3 linked regions of the Homo sapiens genome follow. The protein of the gene in region 1 purifies or fractionates together with the protein of each later gene. This does not show direct contact. Each region holds a gene or a part of one and is shown in the gene's direction. Other genes may lie near its edges.

Region 1 (2,451 bases):
CCCTGCCCGAATCTCATGTGGAATTATAATCCCCAGTGCCCGAGGTGGGGCCTGGTAGCAGAAGTTTGGGTTATGGGGGCAGATCCCTGGTGGCTGGTGCTGTCTTTGCCATGGTGGGTGAGTTCTCACGAGATCTGGCTGGTTAAAAGTACATGGCACCACCCCCCAGTCTCTTGCCTGCTCGCCCTGCAACGCGCCTGCTCCCCCTTGGCCTCCCACCCTGATTGTAGCCTCCCAAGGCCTCCCCAGAAGCAGCTGTTGCCATGCTTCCTGTACGGCCCTCAGAAGCATGAGCCAGTTAAACCTCTTTTCTTTATGAATTACACAGTCTCTGGTATTTATCGCAGTGCAAGAATGGCCTAATACACCAGTTAAATGTGAAAACTGGTTTAAAGGAGAATCCAAAGAGCAAACATGCGTGTAGGCAGCCAAATGCAGATGTGAACACACCGATGCGTACACAGCCCCTCCCATGTGGCAGGAACCAGTGTCTTGCCCAGCCAAGTCTGCCATGGCCCATTTACAAGAAAGGTTTGCACCACTGTCTTCTGTAACTCACAGCTGTCAGACAGCACCAGGACGGGGAAAGACACCAGCACTTGAACGCTCTGCGGAGATTTTCTCTAAATGGAGCAGCAAATGGAATGTAGTTCGAAGGGACGGTGATGTCAAGGGGATTCTTAGGATGAACTTGATATTGAAGACATCCTAGCGGATGGAAGGATCCAGAAATGATGGCATAGCAGCACTCCAGGCAGGTGAAAGGAAGTACCTGGAGCCTGTCCTGATGAGGCAGGAATATGTCTGGTGTTCACAGGATGGCAGGCAGAGGCTGAAGGTACAGAGACAAAAGCTCCTGATTTCACAAGATTCTGTCTTCTTGGGGGTAGGAGTGAGGTCATGAGCTTCAGGTGGATGGGGAATGTGCTTAGTGGACAGCTCCATGAGAAAGCTGGCCTGCAGGCAGCTCAGAGGGCCATGCCAAGCAGGGGGGTCCGTCCTTCCAAGGTTAGAGTCTTGCCAGTGAGTAGGAGTGGAGGACTGGCAGGGTAGGGCCAAGGGTGTGGCAGAGAGAGTCCCTGGAGCAGGGCACTCCTGTGCTGGTAGAGAGACCATGAGGACACAGAGGGGCTTCCACGGTGTACTGGAAGGGCCTGTGGATTAAAGGATCTGTGGGGTGGCTGTGCCGGGGGCAGAAGCCAGGAAAGTGGGTAGCAGAGGTCTTGGCGGGGCACAGTTGATGGCGGCAGAGCCTGAGGACCAGCGGGGTGAGGCAAGGAGCCTGGGAACAGGAGATGCCAGCAGTGAGTGGAGAGCCAGAGGAGCGAGCCCAGGAAGGGGCAGCAACTAGAAGTAGCACCTTGCCATGCCCCCAGGTCGCACTGAGAGGCAGGAGGGGCTCAGAGCAGAGCAGCCTCCCTTACCAGTCTCAGAACCTGCGCTGGCAGCTCTGGGTTCACAGGTTCCTGTGGGTTGAGGAGGGATGGTGGCAGAAGCGGCCTCGTGGTTGCTGGATAGAGTGAAGGGTGGGCACAGAGCAGGGCCCAGCACACACAGCTCTGAGCAGCATTAGCTCCAACCTGTCCATCAGCATCTGGATTTCAAGGTGACAAAATTATGCACCCAAGAATGATTTACTCAGAATTTCACATTCTCTAACATCAGCTGCAAATTTTGTTTTTTTTCACCTAAAATTCCTAGTAGAGCCCTTTATCCGTTCACTGTTTTAGGCCCTGGTGGAACAGAGGGAATCAAACAGGTAATCAGGTAATACCCACCCACACCACCTCTACCACCAGCAGGCAGAGTCGGGAGGTGAACACAGAATCAAGTTAGACAGGAACTTGTCAGAGGGCGATAAAGATGAGGGAGATGGGGTTCTGGGAAATGTGTTCCTAACAGACAGTGGGAGTCCGAATCTCGTAAGCCGCAATATTGGAATTTTACCCATTGTTTTCTTGTTGCATTCTTAGTCTGAGATAGCAGCCGGCCCTGCGAGAATCTCCATGATTAGTCCACCTCAAGATGGACGAATGGGTAAGTAAAATGTCCTGTAACCTCAGACCGATACATGCATCGATTAAAATGCATTCCCTGAAAGGTCATGTTTAATCAAAGCTGTCAGAACCTACCCAAGGGGGTGCTGTCCTTCCACCCGGTGCATGGGAGGCTACATATTCACCAAAATGGTGCAGCTTTTGAGTCCTTCCAGGGAGAAGCTCCTGATGACCGTGTAACAAGTCACAGGAGATAACTGGCTCCTTTGCATTCTATGTCCTCTTGGTTTTAAACAAAAATAGTGTCACTGGGTTTGCTTCCTGGTAATTGGCTTTGAATTGCTGGTCCCTTTTCAAAGTGAATCCCTCCCTCACCCTCAGCACACATCCACCTCAGCCCACACAGGCCATCTCCCCACACGCTGTCTCCTGCATCTTCCCGCAGGGCCACATC
Region 2 (3,658 bases), on another chromosome or scaffold:
GAAATTTGGATTACACAGATGAACAGGGTTCAACATACCTGCCGTGTAGGAGTTTATAGTTCATTAGCATGGATAGGTGTGTAAAAAATTAATTTATTCTGGAGAATAATACTTGTACATAAAAAGACATAAGGTATTGAGCTGTAAGGTAATAGTGATCAATTCTGCCACTAACATAGCAGTGGGAATATCAAGGAGGGCTTTATAGAAGAGGTGACATTTGAGTGGGTGTCATTGTTTAATAGAACTTTTTGTATTAATGTTGCTGGTGCGGATATTTCATTTCCTTTTTTTTTTTTTTTTTTTTTTTTTTTGAGATGGAGTCTCACTCTCTTTCCCAGGCTAGAGTGCAGTGGTGCAGTCTCGGCTCACTACAACCTCCACTTCCCAGGTTCGAGTGATTCTCCCACCGCAGCCTCCCGAGTAGCTGGGATTATAGGCATGAGCCACTGTGCCCAGCCTCAGAGTGTACCCTTTAAAAAATTATTTTAAAAAAATTTTACCTCTTGACTCTGAAATATATTGAGAGGTCTTCCCCCAATGAGATAAAAATGAACAAGTGTGTAAACAGTTAAGAAGTTTTTTCTCAAGCTAATTTTTTTTTTTTTTTTTTGAGACAGAGTCTTGCTCTGTCACCCAGGCTGGAGGGCAGTGGCGCGATCTCCCCGGCTCACTGCAAGCTCCGCCTCCCGGGTTCACGCCATTCTCCTGCCTCAGCCTTCCGAGTAGCTGGGACTACAGGCGCCCACCACCTTGCCCGGCTAATTTTTTGTATATTTAGTAGAGACAGGGTTTCACCGTGTTAGCCAGGATGGTCTTGATCTCCTGACCTCGTGATCCGCCCGCCTCGGCCTCCCAAAGTGCTGGGATTACAGGCCTGAGCCACCGTGCCGGGCCAAATGTTTTTTTTTTTTTTTTTGAGACGGAGTTTCGCTCTTGTTACCCAGGCTGGAGTGCAGTGTCGTTATCTTGGCTCACTACAATCTTCACCTCCTGGGTTCAACCAATTCTCCTACCTCAGCGTCCTGAGTAGCTGGGATTACAAGCGCCTGCTATCAAGGCCGGCTAATTTTTTGAATTTTTGTTTGTTTGCTTGTTTGTTTTGTGTTTTTGGGAGACAGAGTCTTGCTCTGTCATCCAGGCTGGAGTGCGGTGGCATGATCTCGGCTCACTGAAACCTCTGCCTCCCGGTTTCAAACCATTCTCCTGCCTCAGCCTCCTGAGTAGACAGGTGCGTGCCACCACGCCCAGCTAATTGTATTTTTAGTAGAGACGGGGTTTCGCCATGTTGCCCAGGCTGTTCTCGAACTCCTGACCTCAGATTATCCACCTGCCTCGCCCTCCCAAAGATTTGGGGTTACAGGCGTGAACCACGGTGCCCGGCCTAATTTTTTGTATTTTTAGTACATACGGGGTTTCATTATGTTTGCCAGGCTGGTCTCTAACTCATGACCTCAGGTGGTCCATCTGCCTGGGGCTCTCAAAGTGCAGGGATTACAGGTGTGAGCCACCACGCCTGGCCTCTCAACCTGATTTTTATTTTTAGTAGACACATTGGTGATGAGACAATCAAATGTTCGCATTGATGAGAAAAGGCAGAAATGATTTTTGTTCTCTGGATTCTTGAAATAAAATTTTTTCCAAAGGACAAGAAGATCCCATCCCAGTAAGGCAATGCAAGAACCTGCAAGCAAAATGTACCTGAGACTCACAGTGGGGTACAAAGTGTCTCCTGGGAAGGTGGTCACTGAGTAATTTAATAGGCAGGATGGGGATGACAGAATATTTTGAGTGATATTATGGTCTGACTTGACAGTGGAGTCAGACATGTTTGTGTCCCAATCAGCACTGCCACTTCCTGAGTTTGTCACCTTGGAAAGATTTTTTCACTTATTTCAATTTCAGTTTTTTTTTTTTTTTTTTTTTTTGAGACAGAGTCTAGCTCTGTCGCCCAGGCTGGAGTGCAGTGGTACAATCTTGGCTCACCACAACCTCCGCCTCCCGGGTTCAAGCTGTTCTCCTGCCTCAGCCTCCTGAGTAGCTGGGATTACAGGCGCCCACCAGCATGCCCAGCTAATTTTTCTATTTTTAGTAGAGACGGGGTTTCACTGTGTTGGCCAGGCTGGTCTGGAACTCCTGACCTTATGATCTGCCCACCTCAGCTTCCCAAAGTGCTGGGATTACAAGCGTGAGCCACCACGCCCGGCCCAATTTCAGTTTTTTAATAACTGTAAATTACATTTCATCAGAAGAGCTTAAAAGATGTTTAAAAAGTCAACGACTATGAAAGGTATATTTCAGAAAAATCTAGTGATATGTTTTATTTGTTAAATTTATGTTTTTTTCTGGTTGTGTAATTTTAAATAGAACCCCAGGGGTTTGCTTTGAGAATGCTACCAGAGAAGAGAAATAGGAAAAATCTTTTTTCCATTATGGCTATACAAAGTGAATACATTTCCACAAGCAAATATGATAGATTAATTGGTGCATTGTATATATTTCTCAAACCATCAGCTCCTCTTTTTTTCAAAGTCTAGAATTTGTAATGGTGGATATCTCTGTTCTGTATTCTGTTGTCTAGATATCCAAGTTTAATGCAAAATTTTATGACATGGAACTTGACACTTTCTAGAAATGTTCACATATGGTTGTTTATTAAATTATCTCTCATGGAAATATTTAAATGACATGTTTATTGTCTGAAAAGGACAGATATTTAAGCTTTTTTTTTTTTTTTTTCTTTTTTTTTGAGAAAGAGTCTCGTTCTTTTGCCCAGGCTGGAGTGCAGTGGTACAATCTTGGCTCACTACAACCTTCACCTCGCAGGTTCAAGCGATTCTCCTGCCTCAGCCTCCCTAGTAGCTGGGATTACAGGTACACACCACCAGGCCCATCTAATTTTTCTATATTTAGTAGAGACAGGGTTTCACCATGTTGGCCAGGCTGTTCTCAAACTCCTGACCTCAGCCAATCCGCCCGCCTCAACCTCTTAAAGTGATGGGATTACAGGTGTGAGCCATTGTGCTTGGCCCCCTTTAACTATTTTATGTGACTCTTCTCTCTTACCTGAACGTTGCCCAAAAAGAGATTGTGACATATATTTGGGCCCAGCACCAAGGTGATGTAACTCTCCTCTTCAGCCGGGCCTTGCCCACAGAAGAGAGAATGACTTATTCCTGAGTTTAGCATACAGGTGATTTGATTCTTCTGCTGACTCCCAGAAGTCACTGTAACATATATCTGGGTCCATCGCTGAGACTGTGTGACTCTCTTCTCCCTGGGACCTGTCCACAGTGGGGATTGTGACGTATTGCTTGGCCAAGCACCTACGTGATATGACTCTTTTCTTAGGCCTGGGCCCTACCCACTGGAGTGATTTTGACACATTGCTGGGCCTAGCTCAAAGGTTATATGTGACTTCACACTTCTTCCTGGGCCCTACCCATGAGGGGCACTGTGTCTTAACTCTGAGACACTTAATTAGGTGATGTGACTCTCTTTTTTCGAGATGGAGTCTGGCTCTGTCACCCAGGCTGGAGTGCAGTGGCAAAATCTTGGCTCACTGCAACCTCCACCTCCTGGGTTCAAGTGATTCAACTGCCTCAGCCTCATGAGTAGCTGGGATTATAGGCATGCACCGCCACAGTCAGCTACTTTT
Region 3 (3,658 bases), on another chromosome or scaffold:
TAGTTGTCTTTTACATGTAAAATCCACAATTCCACATGGCATGCAGGTTTTCTGTGTGTTTGGCATAAATCACTAGTTTAATTTTTTTTGCCTCTAACGTTTTTTCTCTAATAATTTCAACAGTAGCCCATTTAATATTCAATATATTAACTTGTCTTAAATGATATAAAACCTTGGCAAACCTTAATGATAAGCTCCCACCCCCTTGTTGTAAGTGTCTATTGTGTGTATTTCAAAATAGTTACTTACATCTAAAAATGTTCATTCCTCCTTAAAGAGTTGAACACATACGTTTTATAAAATCGTATTTTTTTCTTTTTACTTATTTTGCTATTTCTATTTCTTCATGGTAAATACTTAGGATGGTTTGTCTCAGTCTTTCATATTAATCGTCTCACTTGAGAAGTATTCATCCTTTCAATGTTGTGAGTTAAAAAGTTTGGTGATGGATTCTGGCTTGTTTATCTCCCCTTTTTGGGACTTGAAAATATACTTTATTGAAGCAAAAGAAAACAGTTCTGTGACCCACTTTTTAAAAGAGAGGTTTATTAATTTGTTGTCCTGATACTGGAGCAAATAATGTCAGACTTTTGGCATAATCAGTTAGTATATGCATATAAGAAATAAAAATTCATAGAGTATGATGGTACCAATTATGAGATATGCTAAGTGCTGAAAATGTTTGAAAAAGTTCTGAAACTCCTTGGAGACAGTGTGTTCCAAAGTGGCCTTTGTGGACAGAAAAGGCTTGGACTTAAAATTTTGGTATCTTTCTGAAGATCTAATAAAATTCACTAAATTGAAAGGAGCTGTAAACATTTTAGAATGTAATTGTTAACAACGTGCTTCCCTAAAACAAGTTTTTTCCCCTCCTCTATATCATGTTGAACTATGAAAGAAAGTGCCTTGTTCTGTTGACCAGGGATAACTTTAGTGTTAAATAGTGGTTGGTTTTCAAATTTTCTGAGACTATAGTTCACATTTGAGCCCTTATGTGTTTAATATAAACTAAAATTATTATCTTGGTGAAGAATAATAGATTTGTTTCAACCAGCTGCCTTAGACACTTTCTCTTGATTAACTTAATTTAGTAATAGCAGAGGTCTTATTAGCTGCTTCCCAAATTGAAAATAAAGATGACATTATTTTGTCTCAATACATATCGTTTATAATACACGATAGTAAACTGGTTAAAATTGTTTAGTGGAATTTAAATTTTTTTAAAAAAGACAGCATAATAGTGTGTAAAGAGATTAATTTAGACAACTTTAGAATATAACAACTTAGAAGATAAGATTTTGATAGTACAAAGGTTTCTAATTGAATGTTAACAAAATTATGAGTTTAAGTTTATATAATTTCCAAATGTATGTTAAGATGTTAATAGTTTCTTTGTAACTGTTAACCATGTATACAGTTTGGAGCAAAGCCAGGCCTTTTGAAAAATGCACATTCTAAATTTTAAAAAATGTTTAAAATACATTTCTAGTTAGTTTTTTTATAATTAAAGGATTTTTTTGAACATAGAGTAAATATAAAGTAGATTATATTTCTACCATTCTATGTTCTTTTGTTTAAATTTTCTTTATAAAGCAATATAATAAGCATAGATAACTACACAAGTATTTATAGCTCTGTATCATTTATTACCGTTTTCAGATATATTGCAGTCTTTTCAATGGTGTAATGATGGATACAATAAAATTTGTCTTAAAAGTGGAGCCAAAAATTTGGGAGTACATATTTGTTAATCTTTAGTGTTCCTCTTTCTTAAAAGCTGTTCTTTTAAAAATAAGGGAGATCAAGTTAATTGGTTGTCAAATCAAATAGCAATTTATCTTACTGTTTTTGATAAGCAGTGAGGTAAATATAGTTTAAATATACTTCTGAATGCATTGGTTGCAGTAATAAATTCTGCTGTTACTCTACTTATTTAGGTAGAGGGAATTTACTGTGTTTTTTGATGAGAACTAAGTATTCATAAAAGAAGGGGCATTACTTTAGTGTCTCAATTTAAATAGAAGAGAGGGTAGATACACTGTCACTGTCTTTAAGGTTGTGTTTTAACAGGGGACTTAAAAGTGGATTGTTTACTATGTGGTTAGCTTTAGAAGACTGTTAGAAACTAGATGTTTTGCTTTGTCTTTCCAACACTTTCTGGGATGTTTTTACTCTTATCTGAGCAGTGTGTTTTAAAGCATGTATGTAATAAAATGTAAGTGCTCAGATGTGTATGTCAGTCAGCTTTTACAGACGGTCCTTAGGAAAAAAAAAAGGCTAATATCTCTTTAAAAAACATATGAAGGCTAGGAGAGAGTTTAGAGCTAGCAAGAGCACCATGGTGTTGACAGCTTTATATCCCTGCTGGGTAACATTCACTTACTAGAATTGGCGTCCCCTCTCAGCTAGTAATTCACTCCATAAGGATTTTGAAAAAGGATGATTAATGGTGGGGAAATTTATATTTGTGAAATTGTTGATTAAAACTTACAGATCTATTTGAAGATTTAGGAAAAGAAGGGATTATTAAGGATGATGAAAATAAGAATCAGATGATCCTTTTTACCACTATTAGCATAAGTACCTAAAATGTTCTGCTGTATGGAATGCTTCAGCCATGCAACTTACAGCATAAAATGAAAGTGATGCCAATCAAGTTTCCAGAGGAAGCAAGGCATTCTGCTTTTCTCCTGGACTGCTGAAAGGTGCTGGCCAGTTGTGCTTTAATAGCAATAAATTATTGTGCTTCATTCATTGTTAACACAAGCATTTTCATTTTTTAATGTTTGGCTTAAAGAAGAACTTTCAGACAGCTTTATTTAAACTGAATGAACAGCGCTTGAATATACCAGATGGTGTATTTGCTGATAGGAGACATTAAACATCAGAAATCTTTTTGATATTTTTCATTTTCCTATGAATTTTTATGATTTTTTGGTGTTAAATGTTCTACATTTTAGGGAAAAATATTTAAACATTGAAAATATCTTTTAGAGAGATTTGCTTTTTTTATTAAAAAAACTTGCTTATTTCTGAAAAATAATTTATGTTTTATAAATAACAATTTAATTTTGTTGGCATACTGTCTGTTAAAGTTATCTTATAACTAGTCTACCTGAAGTAGACCTATTCGTGCTACCAGGCAGCCCTTTCAAGAACATAACTGTCTTGTTGCAAGGGGGAAAAAAATCATTATGCAGTACACACTGATGTATTCAAATAGGGAAGCAAATGTGATCAAGATTGTTAGTCAGGGCCTCATTTAAAGCTGAACATTGTCTACAACAACAGTTAGTTTAATTGTCTACATGTGGAACACTTCCTTTTAGATGAAAAGAAATGCAGTTCGGGTCAGGTGTAGTCACCATATCAGCAACAGTAGAGAGACATTTAACTTTTTGAAAGGAATGCAGATATGAAAGTATAGATAGGTATATATTGAGATTATAAAATACTTAGAAATATATTGTTAACATGGGCAAAATGGAGAAAACTCCATTCCCAAGGATGAATATCATAATATTTGTAGGAAGTACACATTACTTCAAAAGAGAAAAGATTGTATTTCTCCCTCCTCACTTTTTTTTTTTTTTTTTAAGGTTTTAAGATCTTTTAAATAGAATGAACTTAGGCTTTGGGGTCATCCAACAATCTAGCC

Evidence for each region.
Region 2: the proteins of RNF212 (region 1) and RPSA2 purify together in Homo sapiens (affinity purification with mass spectrometry; one large-scale study listed by BioGRID and IntAct). This does not show direct contact.
Region 3: the proteins of RNF212 (region 1) and SATB2 purify together in Homo sapiens (affinity purification with mass spectrometry; one large-scale study listed by BioGRID and IntAct). This does not show direct contact.

The regions. Positions count from the first base shown.
Region 1 is NC_000004.12:1,073,185-1,075,635, reverse strand, and holds part of RNF212 (probable E3 SUMO-protein ligase RNF212), read left to right. Parts: intron 1-1,973; coding exon 1,974-2,037; intron 2,038-2,442; coding exon 2,443-2,451. UniProt on the Homo sapiens protein: SUMO E3 ligase that acts as a regulator of crossing-over during meiosis: required to couple chromosome synapsis to the formation of crossover-specific recombination complexes.
Region 2 is NC_000019.10:23,765,857-23,769,514, forward strand, and holds part of RPSA2 (small ribosomal subunit protein uS2B), read left to right. Parts: intron 1-3,658. UniProt on the Homo sapiens protein: Required for the assembly and/or stability of the 40S ribosomal subunit. Required for the processing of the 20S rRNA-precursor to mature 18S rRNA in a late step of the maturation of 40S ribosomal subunits. Also functions as a cell surface receptor for laminin.
Region 3 is NC_000002.12:199,451,388-199,455,045, reverse strand, and holds part of SATB2 (DNA-binding protein SATB2), read left to right. Parts: intron 1-3,658. UniProt on the Homo sapiens protein: Binds to DNA, at nuclear matrix- or scaffold-associated regions. Thought to recognize the sugar-phosphate structure of double-stranded DNA.